Linked DNA regions of Homo sapiens. The protein of the gene in region 5 interacts with the protein of the main gene of each other region in a pairwise test. Each region holds a gene or a part of one and is shown on either strand. Other genes may lie near its edges. The genes, in order: MOB4, FMR1, PLCG2, NFE2L2, ELK1 and EMX1.

What was found.
Region 1: the proteins of ELK1 (region 5) and MOB4 interact in a two-hybrid assay, tested with the Homo sapiens proteins (one large-scale study listed by IntAct).
Region 2: the proteins of ELK1 (region 5) and FMR1 interact in binary tests that used the Homo sapiens proteins (3 or more experiments, as listed by UniProt).
Region 3: the proteins of ELK1 (region 5) and PLCG2 interact in a two-hybrid assay, tested with the Homo sapiens proteins (one large-scale study listed by BioGRID and IntAct).
Region 4: the proteins of ELK1 (region 5) and NFE2L2 interact in binary tests that used the Homo sapiens proteins (3 or more experiments, as listed by UniProt).
Region 6: the proteins of ELK1 (region 5) and EMX1 interact in a two-hybrid assay, tested with the Homo sapiens proteins (one large-scale study listed by BioGRID and IntAct).

What each region holds. Positions count from the first base shown.
Region 1 is NC_000002.12:197,519,066-197,522,565, reverse strand, and holds part of MOB4 (MOB-like protein phocein), read right to left. Parts: intron 1-3,500.
Region 2 is NC_000023.11:147,928,919-147,932,418, reverse strand, and holds part of FMR1 (fragile X messenger ribonucleoprotein 1), read right to left. Parts: intron 2,472-3,500; coding exon 2,378-2,471; intron 2,292-2,377; coding exon 2,175-2,291; intron 1-2,174.
Region 3 is NC_000016.10:81,957,291-81,960,237, reverse strand, and holds part of PLCG2 (1-phosphatidylinositol 4,5-bisphosphate phosphodiesterase gamma-2), read right to left. Parts: intron 2,283-2,947; coding exon 2,240-2,282; 3' UTR 1-2,239. UniProt on the Homo sapiens protein: The production of the second messenger molecules diacylglycerol (DAG) and inositol 1,4,5-trisphosphate (IP3) is mediated by activated phosphatidylinositol-specific phospholipase C enzymes. It is a crucial enzyme in transmembrane signaling.
Region 4 is NC_000002.12:177,233,728-177,237,227, forward strand, and holds part of NFE2L2 (nuclear factor erythroid 2-related factor 2), read right to left. Parts: intron 545-3,500; coding exon 278-544; intron 1-277.
Region 5 is NC_000023.11:47,644,064-47,647,563, reverse strand, and holds part of ELK1 (ETS domain-containing protein Elk-1), read left to right. Parts: intron 1-3,500. UniProt on the Homo sapiens protein: Transcription factor that binds to purine-rich DNA sequences. Forms a ternary complex with SRF and the ETS and SRF motifs of the serum response element (SRE) on the promoter region of immediate early genes such as FOS and IER2.
Region 6 is NC_000002.12:72,924,019-72,927,518, reverse strand, and holds part of EMX1 (homeobox protein EMX1), read right to left. Parts: intron 3,211-3,500; coding exon 3,026-3,210; intron 1-3,025. UniProt on the Homo sapiens protein: Transcription factor, which in cooperation with EMX2, acts to generate the boundary between the roof and archipallium in the developing brain. May function in combinations with OTX1/2 to specify cell fates in the developing central nervous system.

The DNA.
Region 1 (3,500 bases), on a different chromosome or scaffold from region 5:
TGAGGTCAGGAGTTCGAGACCAGCCTGGCCAACATGATGAAACCCCGTCTCTACTAAAAATACAAAAAATAGCCGGGCATGGTGGCGTGCGCCTGTAATCCCAGCTACTCAGGAGGCTGAGGCAGGAGAATTGCTTGAACCCAGGAGGCGGAAGCTGTGGTGACTCAAGATCACGCCACTGCACTCCAGCCTGGGTGACAGAGCAAGACTCCATCTCAAAAAAAAAAAAAAAAAAAAAAAAAGGTAATCACCCATGGGTACAAAAAAAATAGAAAGAATGAATAAGACCTAGTATTTGCTAGCACAATAGGGTGACTATAGTAAAAACCAATTTAATTGTACATTTAAAAAAAACTAAAAGAATCTAATTTTTTGCAACATAAAGGACAAATGTGTTGCAGGAAGTCAGGGACCCCAAACTGAGGGACCGGCTGAAACCACGGCAGAAGAATGTGGATTGTGAAGATTTCATGGACATTTATTAGTTCTCCAAATTAATACTTTTATAATTTCCTATGCCTGTCTTTACTGCAGTCTCTAAACACAAATTGTGAAGATTTCATGGACACTTATCACTTCCCCAATCAATACCTTGTGATTTCCTAGGCCTGTCTTTAATCTCTTAATCCTGTCAGCTGAGGAGGAGGTATGTCACCTCAGGACCCTGTGATAATTGTGTTAACTGCACAAACTGTAGAGCATGTGTGTTTGAACAATATGAAATCTGGGCACCTTGGAAAAAGAACAGGATAACAGCAATTGTTCAGGGAATAAGAGAGATAACCTTAAACTCTGACCACTGGTGAGCCGGGCGGAACAGAGCCATATTTCTCTTCTTTCAAAAGCAAATGGGAGAAATATCGCTGAATTCTTTTTCTCAGCAAGGAACATCCCTGGGAAAGAGAATACACGCCTGGGGGTGGGTCTATAGACGGCCCCCTTGGGTATGGCCGTCTTCTATGGTCGAAACTGTAGGGGTGAAATAAACCCCAGTCTCCCATAGTGCTCCCAGGCTTATTAGGAAGAGGAAATTCCCACCTAATAAATTTTGGTCAGACCGGTTGCTCTCAAAACCCTGTCTCCTGATAAGATGTTATCAATGACAATGGTGCCCGAAACTTCATTAGCAATTTTAATTTTGCTCTGGTCCTGTGGTCCTGTGATCTCGCCCTGCCTCCATTTCCCTTGTGATATTCTATTACCTTGTGAAGTACGTGATCTTTGTGACCCACACCCTATTTGTACACTCCCTCCCCTTTTGAAAGTCCCTAATAAAAACTTGCCGGTTTTGCAGCTTGTGGGGCATCACGGTACCCACCGACATGTGATGTCTCCCCCGGACGCCCAACTTTAAAATTTCTCTCTTTTGTACTCTGTCCCTTCATTTCTCAAACTGGCTGATGCTTAGGGAAAATAGAAAAGAACCTACGTGACTATCGGGGCAGGTTCCCCGATACAAATGTTTATGGTGATGGATACCCCATTTACCCCCCTGATGTGATTATTATACACTGCATGCTTGTATCAAAATATCTCATGTAACCTACAAATATATACACCTACTATATACCCACAAAAATTTTAAAAAGAGAAGGAAACATCAAATAAACCAGCTTTCTGTTAAAGGGAATATTTTTATTTCTTCTTCTTTTTTTTTTTTTTTTTTTTTTTTAAGAGACGAGGTCTCACTTTGTTGGCCAGGTTGGTCTCAAACTCCTGGTCACAAACAATCCTCCAGCCTCAGCCTCCCAAAGTGCTGGCATTACAAGCATGAGCCACCATGCCCAGCTTAAGGGGGATATTTTTATAGAGCATCTTGCCCTGGTTCTGGAATTCTCTGTAGATAATACAGTTAACAGATATTCCCCTAAGTGATTAAGAACCTTTCCATTTGACTGATTTTTCAGAAAAGTTTACCTATGTAACCTCAGTGGGTAGCACAATGCCTGACACATCTTTGAAGCTCAAATGTCTCTGAGGTAAAACTTGGTGGGGAGGAGGTAAGAGTAAACCAATAATCTATAAACCTGTATATAAACCTGTAAAAACAATCAACAAAGATTAAGTCTTCAAAACCTTGAGCAAAAAAAGCAAATTAGAAGTAAACACAGTGTATATAAAATGAATAAAGTTTAGGCCGGGCGCGGTGGCTCACGCTCAGCACTTTGGGAGGCCGAGGCAGGCGGATCATGAGGTCAGCAGATCGAGACCATCCTGGCTAACACGGTGAAACCCCATCTCTATGAAAAAATACAAAAAATTAGCCAGGCGTGGTGGTGGGCGCAAACCCAGGAAGCGGAGTTTGCAGTGAGCCGAGAGTGCAGCACTGCACTCCAGCCTGGGAGACAGAGCGAGATTCTGTCTCAAAAAAAAAAAAAAAAGTTTAAGTGCAAGGCATACTTATGGATATAATGCATATATAGTAAAAGTATACAGAAAAGAAAAGGAATGATAGGGTAGAAGACAGAGAATGTCTTCCATAAGGATTCAACTATAGTAGCAATGTCCCCGTTTGGACAGTAGGTAATGAGTACACCTTTTTAAGTGTCTTAAACATTTCATCTTTTTTGAAATAGCTGGCCTATCTGGATGAAAATGAACTAATTTTATTAAAGGAAAATATCAAGAAATAAAACAATCTTCTAGAAATGGTTCCAGGATTCCTTTTCTTAGACATTATCTATTAAAGAGCAATTCTAAAATTTTTCCTATATGATCTAAAGTTTCTACCAATACTCTGTCTATTCTTTCCTTTTTAAAAAAACTAAGGAAGTTTACAGAATGTTGTTTTTAAAATATTAGAAAACACATGTACAGTTGGCCCTCCATATCTGCAGGTTTAATCTGCAGATTCAATCAACCAGGAATTGAAAATATTCATTTCAGGGGAGAAAAAAAATACAGAAAATGTTATATTGTTGCTGACATGTACTATGTACCTAGTTAGGTCTAAGATAGTTGCGTATGTACTAAACATGTACCGGCTTTCTTTTTGGTCATTATTCCCTAAATACAGTATAACAACTATTTACAGAACACGCATTGCATTAGGTATTATTAAGTAATCTAGAGTTGATTTAAACTATATAACAGAATGTGCATAGGTTATATGCAAACACTATGCCATTTTACTTAAGAAACTTAAGCATCCTCAGATTTTGGTATGGGGTGGGGGTACGGAGTTATCCTGGAGCCAATCCCCAGAGGACACCAATGATGACTATATATAGAAAAGATGTTGAGAATGAAATGTTTCGCCTTCTCATAACTGTGACATATTTTAGATGCCTATGAGAGACACCAAAAATTCAGCTTAATAAAGATTCTCATCTAATTCAACCAACAAACATTTATTGAAAACCAACTATGAAGCCCAGCGTGGTGGCTTGCGCCTGTAATCCCAGCACTTTGGGAGGCTGAGGCGGGAAGATCACTTGAGGTCAGGAGTTCGAGACCAACCTGGCTAACACGCTGAAACCCCATCTCTACTAAAAATACAA
Region 2 (3,500 bases), about 100 Mb from region 5:
AGAAATGGACGTCTGATGAATACACTTTATCAACTATTACGACAACTGTATTTAGGCCAGCCATGTAAATTATCTTGACCCTGTATATGAGGGGTCCATAAATTATTAATAGTTTTAGGTTAAAACTAACAGGTTTTAGAAAATACCTCTCACAGCCTAAGTACTTTTTAGGTTACTAAAGGTCTATGACATTTTATATGTTTTTGTTAATAGGAAAGAACTTGTTGACATTTTCCAAGGTAACTGCTGAAAACTTATCACAAGGCTGCCTTAGTTAACCAATGACATCAGCAATATAATAACTAAGAAGCAGGTCAAATGTTCCCCAGTAAAAACCAGCTCACTCGGTCTGACAAACTCAATGTTACTTATTTAGGTAAAAAAATGTTTAAATATCATCTTTATAGAAAATTTTATTCGCTTCATTTTTATTAAAAGGTATCAGTATATATTTTCTGGAAACAGTGCCATTTTTTATAACATCATTAGGTACTGTGGTCTAAACATTCCTCTGTTGAAATGACATTAAAATGACACCTCCCTCAAAACCTAAGGAATCAAAAATTGTTGGTACAGTAGTTAAACTGAATAATCAAAAAATGTCAAAAATTAAAAACTTAGTAAGCATCTGAAAGCTAACATGAGACCAGAGTCCGTAAGACCTTGTGATCTGGATCCACAATTATGATGAGCACTTGTAAATATCCAGTGATGACGAAACTAAGTTACACTGACATCCCAAACTTGTGGATAACCACTGTCTTTAAATACCATTATCAAAATTTAGTGTTCAGTTCTAGCATGCCATTAATGAAAACCAAACGTATTAGTGGCTCATGTTGAAAAATGGGAATTTCTTATAGGAACATGTAAATCTCTTTAATATTAGTAGTGAAGAAAGATAGGCATGCATACTAGTTTCTCATTGTTCAACAGACCTGATAATTTGAATGAATGAATACAACTAGCATAAATAATTTAAAAGTGCAATACCCATTTTTTTTAGACTAGAGTAATAAAATCTATAAAATAATTCTAGGACTTTTCAAGAAGTCATGTTTTTTGAGTCCTGGTTCATTAATCTGGTTCGTTCTTTTTCATTGATAATTCACTGATAAATGGTTAGCCAAAAGTATGATAGATCATTTAAGAATAATTCGATGTTTAAGAGGCATATGAGTATATTTTCATAATACTCACAATCAAAGTAAGGAGGCAGCTCTGGGCTAAAAGTTATGAGAGAATCACTGAAGGAACCACAAAATCATGAACACAGGGACATCAAGAAAGAATGAGAGCAAAGACCAATTAAACAGACCTCCATGGCCTTAAGAAAAAACAAAGTGGCAAAAGGAGATTAAACTTTTCCCCTTCTGCTAAGAGTTCAGCATCATACATCAAGTTGACAGGTGGCAAATTTCACAGGGTTTTTATAAGAACACAGTCTTGACTACCTTTTCTCCTAAAATGCAGTTTGGAACTCCTTTTTTTCTTTACTATTTCAAATGTGTGGTGTTTTCCTTCTAATGAATAATGATGACGAACTCTGGAATTTGACAGGAATATAGTAGAGCTGGCACATTCATCTAAGATCCACTTAGTTTCTATAGTAATGGATGGACGTACTTGATAGTTATCAATGAAAACAAATATATGGTGATGAAAATTATTGGAGGATTAATAAAAGTAGATAAAATGCACCTTAAGAGACAAAATAGTAAGTTAGGGAAATAGCCTCTGGCGGGAATCTGAAGACAGGAGTTTTAAAGAATGACAACCAATTAGAATGAAGAAGTTCTATACCCTTTTAAACAAAGATAAACATACATAATGAGAGGAATATGATTAGATATTTAAATATTCTCTAGTATTTTTAATGACAACATGTTATATGGAAGAAGCATTGCCGCATTTTATTAGCAACTTTGATAAACTTCTAGTAAAAGTGAAAGTACCAGAAGTCCCTTAATATACATAAGCTGCTGTTTAATTTTGAAACCTCAGGCATGGAAACTTTAGTATGATTATGCTTTGTACAATTTTCCAACTATAGAACCTAAGGAATTGTTAAGAAGCAGTAAATAAATGACAAGCTCCCCATATTCAAGTTGTGGAATGATACAGTTAATCGTTCCTAGGTACCCTTACAAGCAGTGCTAGGGAAAGTGACATACCTCCAGCTGCTTACTAGCTTCTTCATTTCTCATTATCAGAGACAACTTAGTGCGCAGACTCCGAAAGTGCATGTCAATCAGCATATGTGCTCGCTTTGAGGTGACTTCATTGATGGACTAAATGATTTAAATTAACAACATTATTATCAAGGCAATTGCCCCAGATGAATTAAACTAAAAATAAACAACTCAAAAATGCTCACCAAAATGACAAGCTGATAATTTTCTGGATCATAAGTTACAGAAAAGGCACCAACTGCCTTTTTAAAATCCTTATGTGCCGCCTCTTTGGCACACCTAGAAATTTAAAAAAAAAAATTAAGATGAATAATTACCAACTACTGACATAAATAAATGCAGGCAGATTTACACATACAAGAATCATGGATTCATATTAAATTTGATTTATGCAAAATATGCTATATCCATTTAGAAGCTTAGCTCCTTTTCTGTACATTTCTGAAATACAGCTTAGATTACCAAAAGAGACATATTCAGGGGAACCACTCTACACTACAGGTTTCCTGATTTCAGTTACATACAAGTCAGTAGTTTTCTTAAGTCAACTATTGAAAACTTTTGGAGATAGCTACCTACAGGGTATCTGATTTCTTTCTTCTTCTCTTGTTGCAGGCCTTTTTTTTTCCTTTTTTTTTAATTTTTAGTTTTGTGGGTACATAGTAGGTATATATATTTATGGGGCATATGAGATGTTTTGATACAGGCATGCAATATGAAATAAGCACATCACGGAGAATGGGGTAAGAAACTGCTAAACGATTTGAGGGAGAGAAGGAAACGTACATGAACCAGAAGGCACAAAAATTTACACACATACACAATCTCTAGAAAAGGGAGGATTTCTATGTATTCTGAACTGCAATTTAATGTTCAACAACATGTCCAAATCAAACGTACTGTATTCACTTAATAAAATCTGTAAAAAATAAAAATGCGTCTCTTCTATAGTCTTTAAGCATTATTCCAGATCAAGGATTGTAAGATGAGATGACTTTTTAAAGCTTCTTTGGCTCTACTTATTACACATTTATCTGAAAACATTTTAGGTAAAAGAGAAAAAAACGGAGAAATCGTTTATAGTTTGTGACTTATGACAGAATTATCACATTTGTTTGATCAGTTTTTAAATCTTAGAATGAACAAAGTTAGTTTAGAAAACAAATGTACATTATGTACATCAGACACGTGTATAGCCAAGTAAGTTTAAACAAGCGCAAGGCTGCCTTGATTCTATAAGTAGGAAAAGTTAAATAAGTTTTTTCTCCATTGCTCTTGCAAACCAAACCATTTTTGCCAAAGTCCACC
Region 3 (2,947 bases), on a different chromosome or scaffold from region 5:
CTTTCCTGAGAGAATCAGTCCCTAACACCACCAAGAACCAGATTAACGTGTTACTCTGTCAAGGACAGGAGGAAAGAACCGAAGAAAGTACTCTCTCATGGTGGATTCCGGTTGTAGCACCAGGAGAAGGAGACAGTTTTAGGCAGAGGGTTCTTCCCAGCACCATTTATGTCATAATCCCCTGACTTCTCTTTGGCCACGCATGGATTTTACACAGCAGCAGCTGGAGAGAGGCTTAGCTTCTGCTTCCTATGCCGCCATATGTCAGGTTCTTTGATATGGTAGCAAAAAACCCATTTGGGCAGAAAGGGGATGCAGGCCTTAGCACTGTGGCTTTAAAGTAGAATGAAGTGAGGAGCTGAAAGGAGGTAATGACAGCAACACCTGAGCTCTGCTGTGTGGAAGTCCTAACAGAGCTGAGAGGGGTTGGGGGAGATGCCAGGTGCAATAAATAGGTTCTGGTGGCTACCTGGCCAAAGGCTAATGGGGCCCTGGCTACAGAGTGCCTGCAGCACTCATCCCAGTGCCTTTCTCACCTAGCCTTTCTTGAAAGTTGCTTTGAACATCTGCCACTAAGAGGAATGTTCTTTCTTCAGTTGCTGACTGCCAAATAAAATAGCAGCTCCCAGTTGGAGGAGTAACTGGAGTGATAGCACCAGATAACAGCCCTTCCTTGGCCAGACTGCTGTTCCCTGTGTTCCTGGCTTCAAGCGAGGTAAATGGCTTTCTTTTAGGAGCTTGTGGATGGAGATGATTGATGAGACCCACAGCTTTTTGTTTAAACATCCACACCCCCAAATCTTGGCACTGTATTTGGCATGTGGAGGTGATCAGTAAGTTTTTGTAGAGTGAAGGGACCAGAAGGATCTTCTGGTCAGAGCCTGATTTGTTCTGCCCTGCTTTTCAGCAGTACATGCATACTAAGCCCAGCATTTCGGGTAACAAGAGGAGGGTCAGATGGGTTTCTAGGGGCCAGTTCCATCCACATCAAACATCAGGCTTACTGCTGGTTTGTTCTTCCCCACCACAGCCATCGTTTTTCACAGTTACACTCCTTTTCCCATCAGCTGTAAATTCACTCATTGAGAAGTTGTGACTCTACCAACCACCTCCCTTCCCAACCCAGCACTCTCCTCTCCTTTAAAAAGCCATATTACATTATTGGTATGTATTAACAACTTAAGATGCAGAGGTGTAAAGCCCTGGCCAGCCGCACATACTGTCATGAACTAGGTAGATCTGCCCCAAGGGAGATGGCTGCATTTGAAATTTTCTGTAACACCCTAATGCTTAGCCCATTAAAGCTCAGCTTGCTGCTCCAGAAGACTGGGTAACCCAGAGACATTTCGCCATCAACCTAACTTTTGTCTACCTCTTTCAAGCAGCAGTTGACCTCTTGCCTGTGGAGAGCTGTGGACCAAGGGCCATTCCAGCAGCCTCCCAGCCAGTTCAGTAGGGCCATGAGGGACTAGTGGGGCCAGAGCCTCCCAGCAGCTGGCAGAGCCAGGGGCAAGTGAGAACCTGCCCCTGCAGCACGGCTCTGGTCTCTCTGATGGGCTTTTTAAAACAAAGAGGCCCCAAGATTCCTACCCTCCATCCCAGTAACTCTAGTCACAAAACAAGCTGTCACCATTAATTAGAAATTGTCTTAATGAACAGATCCCATCACTCAGCCATTTTCTTGTGGACTGCAGCAGGCAGCCGGTGGTAGTTAAAGTACATTGAACTGAGCAGGCTGCCTGTGGGTAGGGCTTCTCTTTGGGCCCTTATGGAATCATTTGCCTTTGAGTTAAAATCCTTTTCAGAATCTCATGAATAGTTTCTTACATTTCCAGCTCATCCTCCATGGACATCAGTTACCTGGATCATTAGAGGTAGAATCTTCTTGGCCAGAAAAGAAATCCTGTTCACTGCACAGGTCGTGCAACAGAAGGCTTAATTGATCAAGGTTTTCATTGCTTTTATTCAATGAGGTTTGGAACATGAGAGGCCAAAAATGAGGAGCACATTTTGGGGAATCCTCTATAAAGAATATAAGTTAAGAAAGTTGTCCAAGATGAAAATAATAGGAAATTACCCCAACTCATGCCAGTTGGGTCTTAAGAAATGTCCTTGATGGCAGGCTTGAAGAAAAGATGTCACAGATTAGCGTCTTCCCAGAGTGTGAATAGGGCACGTTCTCCTACATGCAAACACACATGCGCACACACACAATACCCTTACACACATACCCCAGCTTCTATGAGTAAAACTTGCTGTTGCTGACTCTCTTCTCTCTTAACCTGAAATAAAACAGATTTCACCATCAGCAGTGGGCCATGAGAAATGGGCTGCGTGCTGAACTCTGTAACATTTCTCTTTCTGTACATTTGCCAGTCATTCATAGCTGGATGGTATAGGGCTGAGTGTCAGAGAGGCAGACTCCAAGTTCCTGGTAAGACGTTGAGACTCAGAGAGGTTAAATCTCCTCAATGGTAAAACAGAGTAAGAGCTACTCTGCAGGCTGACATGAAGATTCAATGAGAATAATGTGAGTAAGGGAGGCAGCACAGTTTCTCGTTGGTGGCTACTATTAGGATTTTTGTCTGGATGATTCTTTCTTAGAAGATTTAGACATATTATGAAACACTTGGCAACCCCGGCCGCCCCGCACCCCATTACATGCCTGTAGCACAACCACAAGCATCCCTGTTGGGGGATCTTGACCCAGTCTAGAGCCGCTGGACTAGCCCATTCTTGGAAACACAATAAGTACTCCTTAAAAGTCAGTGGTCATCATTTATTTTCGCTATTAAATTGAAGTGTCCTTCTAGAGGAAACAGTTCTACTTAGGGGAAGTGGCAAGCGCCTAAGGTATTACTGTAGGTTAATTTCTAGAACAAAGAGAACTAGAGTCAAGGGTGCCAAAGGATTTTTTGTTTGTTTGTTTGTTTGTTTGTTTGACAGA
Region 4 (3,500 bases), on a different chromosome or scaffold from region 5:
GCTACTTGATCCTTACAGGATGTTTCTATACTTTACAAAACTCTTTGGTGTAACTTAAGTCTTCCCAATCCTCACAATAACACTGTTAAGATCAATAGGTTGGGTACTGAACTCAGGTTAGGTACTGAACTCATCAGGAGGCTGAGGTTGGAAAGTAGATTTGACAAGGTTAAGTAAAAGAAAGGCAAAGCTGGAACTCAAATCCAGATATTTTAATTCCTTGCTCAGTGTTTCCTTAAACCTGCCATAACTTTCCCAAGAACTGAGTACTCTGTACCTGGGAGTAGTTGGCAGATCCACTGGTTTCTGACTGGATGTGCTGGGCTGGCTGAATTGGGAGAAATTCACCTGTCTCTTCATCTAGTTGTAACTGAGCGAAAAAGGCTTTCTCTTGCTCCTTTTGGAGTTGTTCTTGTCTTTCCTTTTCAAGTTTTTTCTGTTTTTCCAGCTCATACTCTTTCCGTCGCTGACTGAAGTCAAATACTTCTCGACTTACTCCAAGATCTATATCTTGCCTCCAAAGTATGTCAATCAAATCCATGTCCTATGTTTAAGACAAAAAAAGGAAGGAGAGAGCTCATGTTTTTTAAATGACAGATACCACATAAATTAATTCACATTATGCCACTGTTGATGGTGGGAAGTGGGGAGATTACAAATACAATCTAAATGAGAACACAGATCCAATGTTCTAGAAGAGCACAGTTAATTCCATTCAATGAATCTATTCATTAAAGACAACAAACAACCTACAAACACATAGCCATCCATTCTAATCACTTGGATCATTAATGATAGGGTGATGGTAGAGGTCACTAAAGGGCAAAGTCACAAATGGTTTGAATGAGAAGAAATCCCACCCTTGTTTAATGGAATATAGAAATTAGAGCAAGCACTCTAAGCCACTGGCTTATATAAGAGAAGTGGGGTCTGGAAAACATTACTGAATACATGGAGTTTTCTTTAAACTTTGCTCAGCAAATATCCAGTTTATAGAGGGATAACTCTCAAGTTAAAGTGTCAATCTAGCAGTTGTGAAATATCACCATTCTTTCCATCTTTCCTACACTAGATTATCTTCTCCCCATCACTGCTTGCTACTCTTATCTCTGTGGCTTACCTATATGCCTGTAATCCCAGCACTTTGGGAGGCCAAGGTGGGTGGATCACCTGAGGTCTGGAGTTCGAGATCAGCCTGGCCAACATGGTGAAACCACGTCTCTACTAAAAATACAAAAATCAGCCGGGTGTGGTGGTACGTGCCTGTAATCCCAGCTACTCAGGAGGCTGAGGCAGGAGAATCGGCTTGAACCTGGGAGGCAGAGGTTGCAGTCAGCTGAGATCGCACCACTGCACTCCAGCCTGGGCAACAGAGCAAGACTCCATCTCAAAAAAAAATAAAATAAAAGCAGACAGGGACAGGTGCGGTGGCTCACGCCTACAAGCCCAGCACTTTGGGAGGCTGAGGCAGGTGGATTGCTTGAGCCCAGGAGTTCGCGACCAGCCTGGGCAACATGGAGAGACCCTGTTTCTACCAAAACAAAAACAAACAACAACAACAACAACTGGTGTGGTGGCGCACACCTGTGGTCCCAGCTACTCAGGAGGCTGAGGTAGGAGGATCACTTCAGTCCAGGAGGTCATGGCAGCAGTGAGCTATGATCGTGTCACTGCACTCCAGCCCGGGCAACAAAGTGAGACCCTGTCTCATAAATAAATAAATAAATAAATAAAACTATGGCTCCAGGGAAGGATTAAAGGTATTAAGTTTTAAGACATAGGAAGAATCTTACAAAGAGGGAATGGTTTTGATGAGGAGAGGCTGAGCTTGGTGACTCAGGCCTGTAATCCCAGGAGTTTGGGAGGCCAAGGCAGGAGGATTGCTGGAGCACAGGAGTTACTAGCCTGGGCACCATAGTGACACCTGTTTCTACCCAAAATCAAAACAAATTAGTTGCACGTGGTGATACGAGCCTGTAGTCCCAACTATTAGGGAGACTGAAGTGAGAGGATTGCTTGAGCCCAGGAAGTCAAGGCCATGGTGAGCTGTGATTGTACCACTGCACTCCAGCTTGGGTGACAAGACCCTGTTTCACACACACAAAAAGATACATGGGGAGAGAATTTATATGACTAGGCTAGGCATAGGAACCACATCCAGATTTTCCTAACCAAAAATGTGTCAATAGCAGTTTTTCTGATTTGTAATTTTAGTCTTTGGAAAAATCTAAATAGGTAGGAAATCTAAATCTGTTTCCATTCCACAAATCACCTATAGGGGAAATAATTAATTTGAGAATGGAAAAAAATCAAGATGGGGGAACGGGAGTTGGGACTTGAAGGCCAGTGGGTACAGTGTAGACACGTCACACTTTGCATTTCATTCTGCTGACAGCTGGCAACGCCAGACTTAGAGTTCTATTACTTTCAGCTTCCCAAGGACGCAAATAACATGGTGGTTGTTTCAGTGAGGAGTCAGGCTATTTTTATCCAACAGAGGAGCAGGCCACCCAGCCTGGAGGCAGCGCAGCTAGCTAGATGGCACAGGCCACCTGTGTCCATGATTGAAGGTTGGCGTTGGAATCTTAAATGCTATGAAACCCTGCTCATGGGGCTCATTATTCTAGCCTTGAACAATATATATTGTAAAGCACACAAAGTAGGCATAGTTAAAGTAGCACTTGTAGTTAGGTATACCTCACTAGGACATACCTAATTATCTTTAAGCCAGTATCTATTAAGGGCTTCCTATATGCTATGCACTGTTCTAAGTACTTTACATATAGAAACTATTCCTCAAAACAGCCTTATACAGAGAAAACATTCCTGTTATACAGTATAAGAATACTGAGGTTAAGAAAAAAGATACTACCAGAAAGTGGCTGAACAAAGACACATACCCAGGCAGCTTCAGTCGGGTTCATGCTTTATTAGCCATGAGCCTACACTATTATAAAATGGCATGGCATTTGCTGCAAATAACCTATGCATATCCCTTTATATACTTTAACTCATCCCTGGATTACTTACAATACCTAGTAAAGTGTAAATGCTGTGTAAATAGTTGTTATACTGTATTTTATGTGTGTATTGTTATTTTTTCGGGTTTTTTTTCCACTTTTTTCCTTTTGAAATTTTATTATTTATTTACTCATTTTGAGATAGGGTCTCACTCTGTCACCCAGGCTGGAGTGTGGTGATGCAATCATGGCTCACTGCAGCCTTCACCTGGGCTCAAGTGATCCTCCCACCTCAGCCTCCCAAGTAGCTGGGACTACAGGCACATGCCACCAAGCCCAGCTAATTACTTTTTGTAGAGATGGCGTCTTGCCATTTTGCCCAGGCTGGTCTTGAATTCCCGGGCTCCATTGATTTTCCTGCCTCAGCTTCCCAAAGTGCTAGGATTACAGGCATGAACCACTCCACTGTGCTTGGCCTTTTTCCAAATATTTTTGAACCAATCTGCCATTGGTTGCATCATGGAACCAGAGGCTGCATGG
Region 5 (3,500 bases):
TTGTGAGTACCAGGCACTCTTCTAGGTGCTGGAATATGGCAAGGAACGAAACAGGGCGAAATATTTGTGCTTGTGGAGCTGACATTTATTAAAAGTTGGGGAGGCTGGGCACGGTGGCTAACACCAGTAATCCTAGCACTTTGGGAGGCTGAGGTGGGTGGATTGCCTGAGCTCAGGAGTTCAAGACCAGCCTGGGCATCACGGTGAAACCCCATCTCTACTAAAATACAAAAAAATTAGCTGGGTGTGGCGGCGTGCGCCTGTAATCCCAGTTACTTGGGAGGCTGAGGCAGGAGAATTGCTTGAACCCAGGAGGCGGAGGTTGCAGTGAGCCAAGATTGCACCATGCACTCCAGCATGGGTGACAGAGCGAGACTCTGTCTCAAAAAAAAAAAAAAAAAAACCCAAGCTGGGGAGACAGACTATGTGAACAAAATAAATAAGTAAAATTAGCATAATAGACAAATGCTGAGAAGAAATAATGAAATAGGGCAGGTAGGAATCGAGTATTGGGGGTGGTTGAAATCTTAGGCATAGGGAAGGTGACTCTTGAATTAGGGCCTCACGGTAGAGACGGAGAGAGCCTTAATGTCTACGGGAAGAGCATACCAGGCAGAAGGAAGTGCCAGTTCAGAGGCCCTGAGGTGGGATGGTGCCTGCCATGTTCAAGGAACATCAAGGCGGCCAGTGTGGCTGGAGCAGAGTGCGGGGAAGGGTAGAAGGTGAGGTCACACAGGTGATGGGAGCCAGATAGTGCAGGTGATACATAGGATAGGATTGCAGGGGCAGGGGGAGAAGGATGACACACTAGCTAATAGCTAATATCTGTGGAGTATCTGCCACACATCAGAGGCACTTTTCTGTTCAAATACCAACCCCCAAAGGATGTTTACCACACGGTGGTGCCTGGAATGCACTACAAAAAGATACATGTGTCAAAGATATTTCTAAGAATGCCAGTTTATATATGAATAAGGATTTTCCTCCTTTTCAAAAGGATATGTTCACAAAACTGAGGTATGTAATATGCTCTATGGAGGCACAGGTATAAAAGCTGTTTCTAAGAGTGCTAGTTGTATATGTGAATAAGGACTGTGTTGTTGCATTGAAAGAATGTGTTCACAAAACTGTGGTGTATAGCTGGGCACAGAGGCTGAGGTGGGAGGATCACTTGAGCCCAGGAGTTCCAGGCCAGCCTGTGCAACATAGTGAGATCCCCGTCTCCGAAAAAAAACCCAAAAAATAACCACTGTGGTGTGCATAATACACTCTCCTAAAGGCACAGGCATAAAAGATGTTTCTAAGAGTGATTTGATTTTCTGGCACCTGGGTAGTGTTATTTCAGTAAATATTCATTGTTAAACACTATGGTGCTTGGAATATACTATACAAAGGCACATGTATAAAAAAGAAGTTCCTAACAATGCTACTTGTAAAAACAAAAAAAAAAGTCAACCCCTCAAGTCTTTTACAGAAGTATTTTACAGAATTGACACAGTTAATCCTCACAGAAGCCTTGGAGGGTAGGTGTACTTTTGAGAATATTTGACTTTGAGAGTAAAATATCCCCATTTTACAGATGAGGAAACAAGCAAAGAGAGGCTGAGTAACTTGCTCAGGGTAACCTTGAGCCAGAATAGCCAGAACAGGGGCAGAGGAACATAAGGCTGAAGACTCAGAAAGAAGAACAGATTTGCAAGGGCAGGCAGGTTATTTGGCACCTTTGATCACGCAGAGGAAGAATGAATTCTTCCTGGAATGCGATGATTGTGTAATTGAGTCCATGAAGTGAGGGAAGAGCTCTCCCTGCGGGGAGAGCAGCCCGTGCTTACCCTCAGAGGTTGGAACTGTCTCGGGAACGGTAGATAGTTCAGGGTGGCTGCCTCAGAGCCTTTGTACACGCCGTTCGCTCCGCCTGAAGGCCCTCCCCCACAGAGGGCAGCCTGGCTTGCTACCTCCCCTCCTTCAGGCCAGGTGTCACTTCCTTGGGGAAGAACTCCTTGTACACCCTGTGTAAAAACAGCATTCCTGTCACTCTCTAGGATCTTACCCTTCTCTGTTTCTCTTCATGGAGAACTGGTGGTGTAAGGCGATTGCTCACTAGAGCCAAACCACTTAGGTTTTGAATTCCGGCTCTGCCAACTTCCAGCTGTGTGACTTGGGGCAGGTTACTTCTCTGTACCTCCATTGCCTCATGTGGAAAATGGGGGAAATGATAATCCCCACCCTTTAACGGTGGTTTGAGGATTCAATGAGTTAAATGATTCAAAGAGTGTGCAGCCCACGGTAAGGATCGTATGCCTGGCTTGCATTTTTAAATTATTAAAATGTATTCATAGCATACCCGTAGATGTCTGACAGGCCTCTGAAACTGACCATCTCCAAAACTGGTGTGACCCCCCTCAAAACTTACTCTCCTGCAAGGCTCCCACCTCAGCTGACCACAATGCTGTCTTTGTGGGTGATTAGGCCACAAACCTAGACTCACCCTGGACCCTTCTCTCACCTCCCCCGGGCATGCTATCTGTCAGCAAGTCCTATTCTGTGTTCAGGCTTTCTCCAGACCCCAGCTACTTCTCGCCAGCCCCACTGCTACCACCATCATCTACCGCAGTGGCTTCTTCAGCCCCAACAGTCTGTTCTTCTCACAACCGCCAGGGGGATCCTGTTGAAATCTCAGTCACAGCCTGTCATCCCTCTGTTCACAACCCTCTTGTGGCTCCTGTCTCACTCAACATCCTGACAGCACCCGAAAAAGCCTGGCTCAGTCTGGCCCCCGTCACTCTGTTCTCCTCTCCCGCTGCCTCCCTCCTCTCCCCCGAACCCATGTCAGCCTCCTCTCCCCATGTCACCTGCCAGGCACTCTCCAGCCTTGGGCCCTTCACACCGGCTGCCGCTTCCACCTGGCTTGCTGCTCTCAGATACTCACGAGCTCAGTTCCTTCACCTCCTTTTGGTCTCTGCCCAGTTGTCCCCTCCTTGGCGACTACTCTCCCCTGACTCTCCATGTAAAAGTAACAGCTCTCCCCTGCTTGATTTTTTTCCCATAACCCTTACCACCATCTGACGCACTCTTGTACATGTTTGCCTTTTTTCTCATCTGCCTTTCCTGCTAAGATGTGAGCTCCTCTGGAGCAGGGATTGTTGTCTGTTGCGTTCTCGACTGTATCCGCAGCACCTGGCCCACAGTATGCACTCACCAAATGCTTGCTAAGTGAAGGAGATGGAAAGAAGTAAACATATCTAAGCAAGGCAGATTACTAGAACTCTTATGAGGGGTCAAGTGGGAGAAATAACAAAATACAAAGCCCTGTGTGCTGTTGAAGCTGGAAGCCCACCGTCACCTTTCACTCAGCTGATAGGTTCTGTTGCAGCTGAAAGAAGAACTGGTAAAATTGCCTGTCTTTGCCACCAGGAGTCACTCTGAACTCTTTGGACTTCTGAAACAAGCCTGCCTGCAAAACAAATTCAGTGAGGTCTCTGGTGACAGGACTCTCTAAT
Region 6 (3,500 bases), on a different chromosome or scaffold from region 5:
AGTTTGATGCATATCATGATAGGCAGGGGTTGTGTGGTGAGCTCTGAGAATGTGGAGGAGGTAGTATACAGAAACACAGAGAAGTAGAATGTAGAGGAGTCACAGAAACTCAGCACTAGAAAAAACCCTGGAATTTGTGTCATTCAATCTCACAGATACAGAAACTGAGGCCCAGACCCAGAGAGAAGACAAAGCCAGAGCCAATAATAGATAACCATTACCAGACATATGAATATACTGTTTGTCAGTTGCGAAATAGCTCTATGGAGATGAAGTTTGAGATGAATGGTGGAAACACAGAAGGTAAAATAGATGACAAAGATAATGAACAAATGGGTAAATAGTTCTTATTGTTAGGAAGAACATATAACTAATAGAAAATCGGAAATATAAATTAGCCAGTTTTGGGGAGGCAGTTTAATGAGAGCAGACAGAAGTATATGGCTAGATGTAAAACAGCTACGGGGTGGGACAGATTAGAGAGCTCTGGAGACAGATACAGATATTAACAGTAGAAATGCATGGCAGGGGGGCTGTTGGGGGTGACTGATGCTTGACAAATAGCTGATAGCTGGAAATGACAGGTAAGCTTGCCTGGTAAGTACCAAGAGGCGGATAGAGAAGTAGCTAATTATATAGCCTGGCTCCGTATGATAAGTTATGAGGGCAACAGAAAGGCAATGTTGATGACGGAAACTGCATAAGGGAGGAAGAACGCTGGACTAAGAGGACACACAGGTTTGGATCTTCTTATGCTACTAATCTGACATACTACCTTAAAGGGAAGGGACTAGGGATGGGGATTAATATTATTTGAGCTCATATGAGGTACCTTTAATCATTAAACAACTATTTTCTCAATGAGGAAACCAGAGCTCAGAGAGGTTAAGTGACTTGCCCAGGGTTACACAGTAAGTTAGCAGGGAGGCAGGTATTTAAAATCGTGTTTGCCCACCTGGGAAGCTCTGTCCAAACCATCTCTCCATCTCAGGGTCTTCACCTGGAAGGACAGGCTGCCACGGCAGGTTCCCCAGGCTCAAACCTCCCCTCATTCTTTTTGTTGTACCATATGCAAAAAGCAGCTCATTTACAGACGGGAAGAAGATTAGCCCTGAGTTTTGATAGTTAATGAAGCAGGATACGTTTATGTTATTCTATCTGGTTTTGTTTTAAATATATGTTTGAAATGTCTCATAATAAAAATGAAAGAAACAATCAGTCCGTTTACTAACTGGCATTGTTAGGAGCAAATATTGACAGGCAGCTAGGTTCAGTTTGAAAGAGAGTTAATTAAAAATGCTCTCACTGAGCTAAAAAATTGAAAGTTTAAAAACAATGACATTATTTCAACAAGTGTTAATCTGTGGGTGGTAGGATTAAAAACCATTTTTGTTTTCTTACAGTTCTGCAATTAAAATTTAATAAATATTACTGTTTAAATGAAGTTAATTATAAACACCATTCTTAAACTGACACCTTGTTTCAAACAATAATTTTAAAACACTGCCAGGAGGGAAAAGGGAGTGTTATTTTATTAACTTATTTTTAAAAACACATCTTTCTTTGAAACGTTTTTAAAATTAACTCTTGTTTTGTAAGCTTTTTCCCTGCAGTTAGAACAGCCCAGCTAGTACATCTGAAAACGCACGGGTCCTGCCTCCGACCCGTGAGCGATTTGTAGATTAAGTGGGGCAGCAGACAGATATGACGACAATAGATGCCAAAATGCCACTGAAGGAGGAGAGGGTAAGGTCCGCCGAAGAAAGCTGCGGATGAAGTTTGGGTCTGGGCTCCCTCACTAAGCCCCCTTCCTACTCTGGCTGCTAAAGGGAGGCTCCGGCTGCCCCCCATGCCGGGCATCTTCTCACTGCCCGGGACTTGGGAGGGGACGGTGGTGTAGTAGGGTCGAGACTAGGAGGAAAGGGGAGCGGAAGGTGAAAAGTCAGCCGGGAGGTAGCTGGGAGACCGCGGAGCCGGCCTCTCGCAACTCTGGGAGCCGGCCGGCACGCAGAGACTGAAATCCACCTCCAGGGCAGCAGCTAGGCTGAGGGTCGCTGAGCCCCACTCCAACACGTCGGACCTGGGTGGACCAAGAGCTTATGCAGTGATCCCAGGCAGCATTTATTTATGGCAAAGTCTACTTACAATGAACCCAAATCCACCTCCCTATAACTTTCATCTAATTCTTTAATTTTTTCCCTTAAATTAACGATCAGTTACAAAAACACTACACGGTAATTGTTAATTTCACTCAGTTCAAGCCCAGGCGCCGTTGGAGTTTATTCCTTCTCCCATTCGACAGCCTTTCCAGTGATTCAGAGAAGCACCTGAGTACCCGGGGTCTATTTCCCACCAGGCCCAGGCCACTCAGATGCTCTGCGCGCGCACACCGTGGCTTCCACAGCCCTATCAGCCGGCCTGGGCCGGATCAGAGCAACCCTCGGGCCCCAAGCAGGGGCTGGCCCCTCCCTGGTTAAGCCCCTCTGTTGGTAGTCTGAGGACACCTGGGCTTTCTCCCCAGACGCTCCTGGCTGGTGGGCAGCCAAGGCCCCGCCAGTTTTGCCCAGGAACAGCAGCAAAGCCAGTGCGGACCGGCTCCCCGCAGGACTATGAGCGCCCCGACACAGTGGCGGGAAAAGGGCTGCAGGAATGCCAGGGCTGGAGCCAGCTCCAGTGGCCTCGGTGCTGCCTGCGCTGCCCGCTCCCGAGGCGACCCGCTTCCTCCAGGGAACCTGGTCCCCCCGTGAGGAGCTTTGGGAGCCGGGCTCGGGATACAGTTTGCATTTACTCTGCCTCCTGCTAGGTCTTTAGCGCTTGACAAAAGTCCTGCGGGCTCAGCAGGCTGCACGCAGTCTCGAGGAAGAGGCTCTAAAGACGGGCTTGACCGCAGCGCCGCGGGGAATGGGGGCCTTTTGGAACCCAGCAGGGCTGGGCTGGGGCGGGCTCAGGGCCTCTCCTGCACCCGCGCACCCTCACCTCCACCCGGGCTCCGGGCGCAGGGCAGGCCGCGACCGGGGGTGATTACCTGCGTCTCGGAGAGGCTGAGACTGCCGGCCAGCTGCTTCCGCTCGGCGCCCACCACGTAGTGGTTCTTCTCGAAGGCGCGCTCCAGCCGCAGCAGCTGCGAGGGCGAGAAGGCCGTGCGGATCCGCTTGGGCTTGCGTGCGAAGGGGCCGTGCAGAAGCAGCCCGTCCTGGGGCACGTCGCTGGCTGCGGCCCCGCCGCCGACGGCAACACACGCAGGTACAGACAGAGAGAAGGGGCGCCGTGAGCCGGGGCCCAACAGAGCCTGGCCTCGCGCCCTGCTCCCAAGCGCCCTGCCCTCTCCATTCCTTGACACGCACACACACGCCATTTCTCCCTTTGCCCTTTTGCCGCCCCTTCCCTAAGTCCACTCCCCTCCGCAACACCTCCCCGCACTCGAGAGCCACTCCGCGGGGGAACGCGGGGAATAACAGCTCTCCAGATCCCTCTGTTAAGCCAAGAGATGGGGCAGGCCG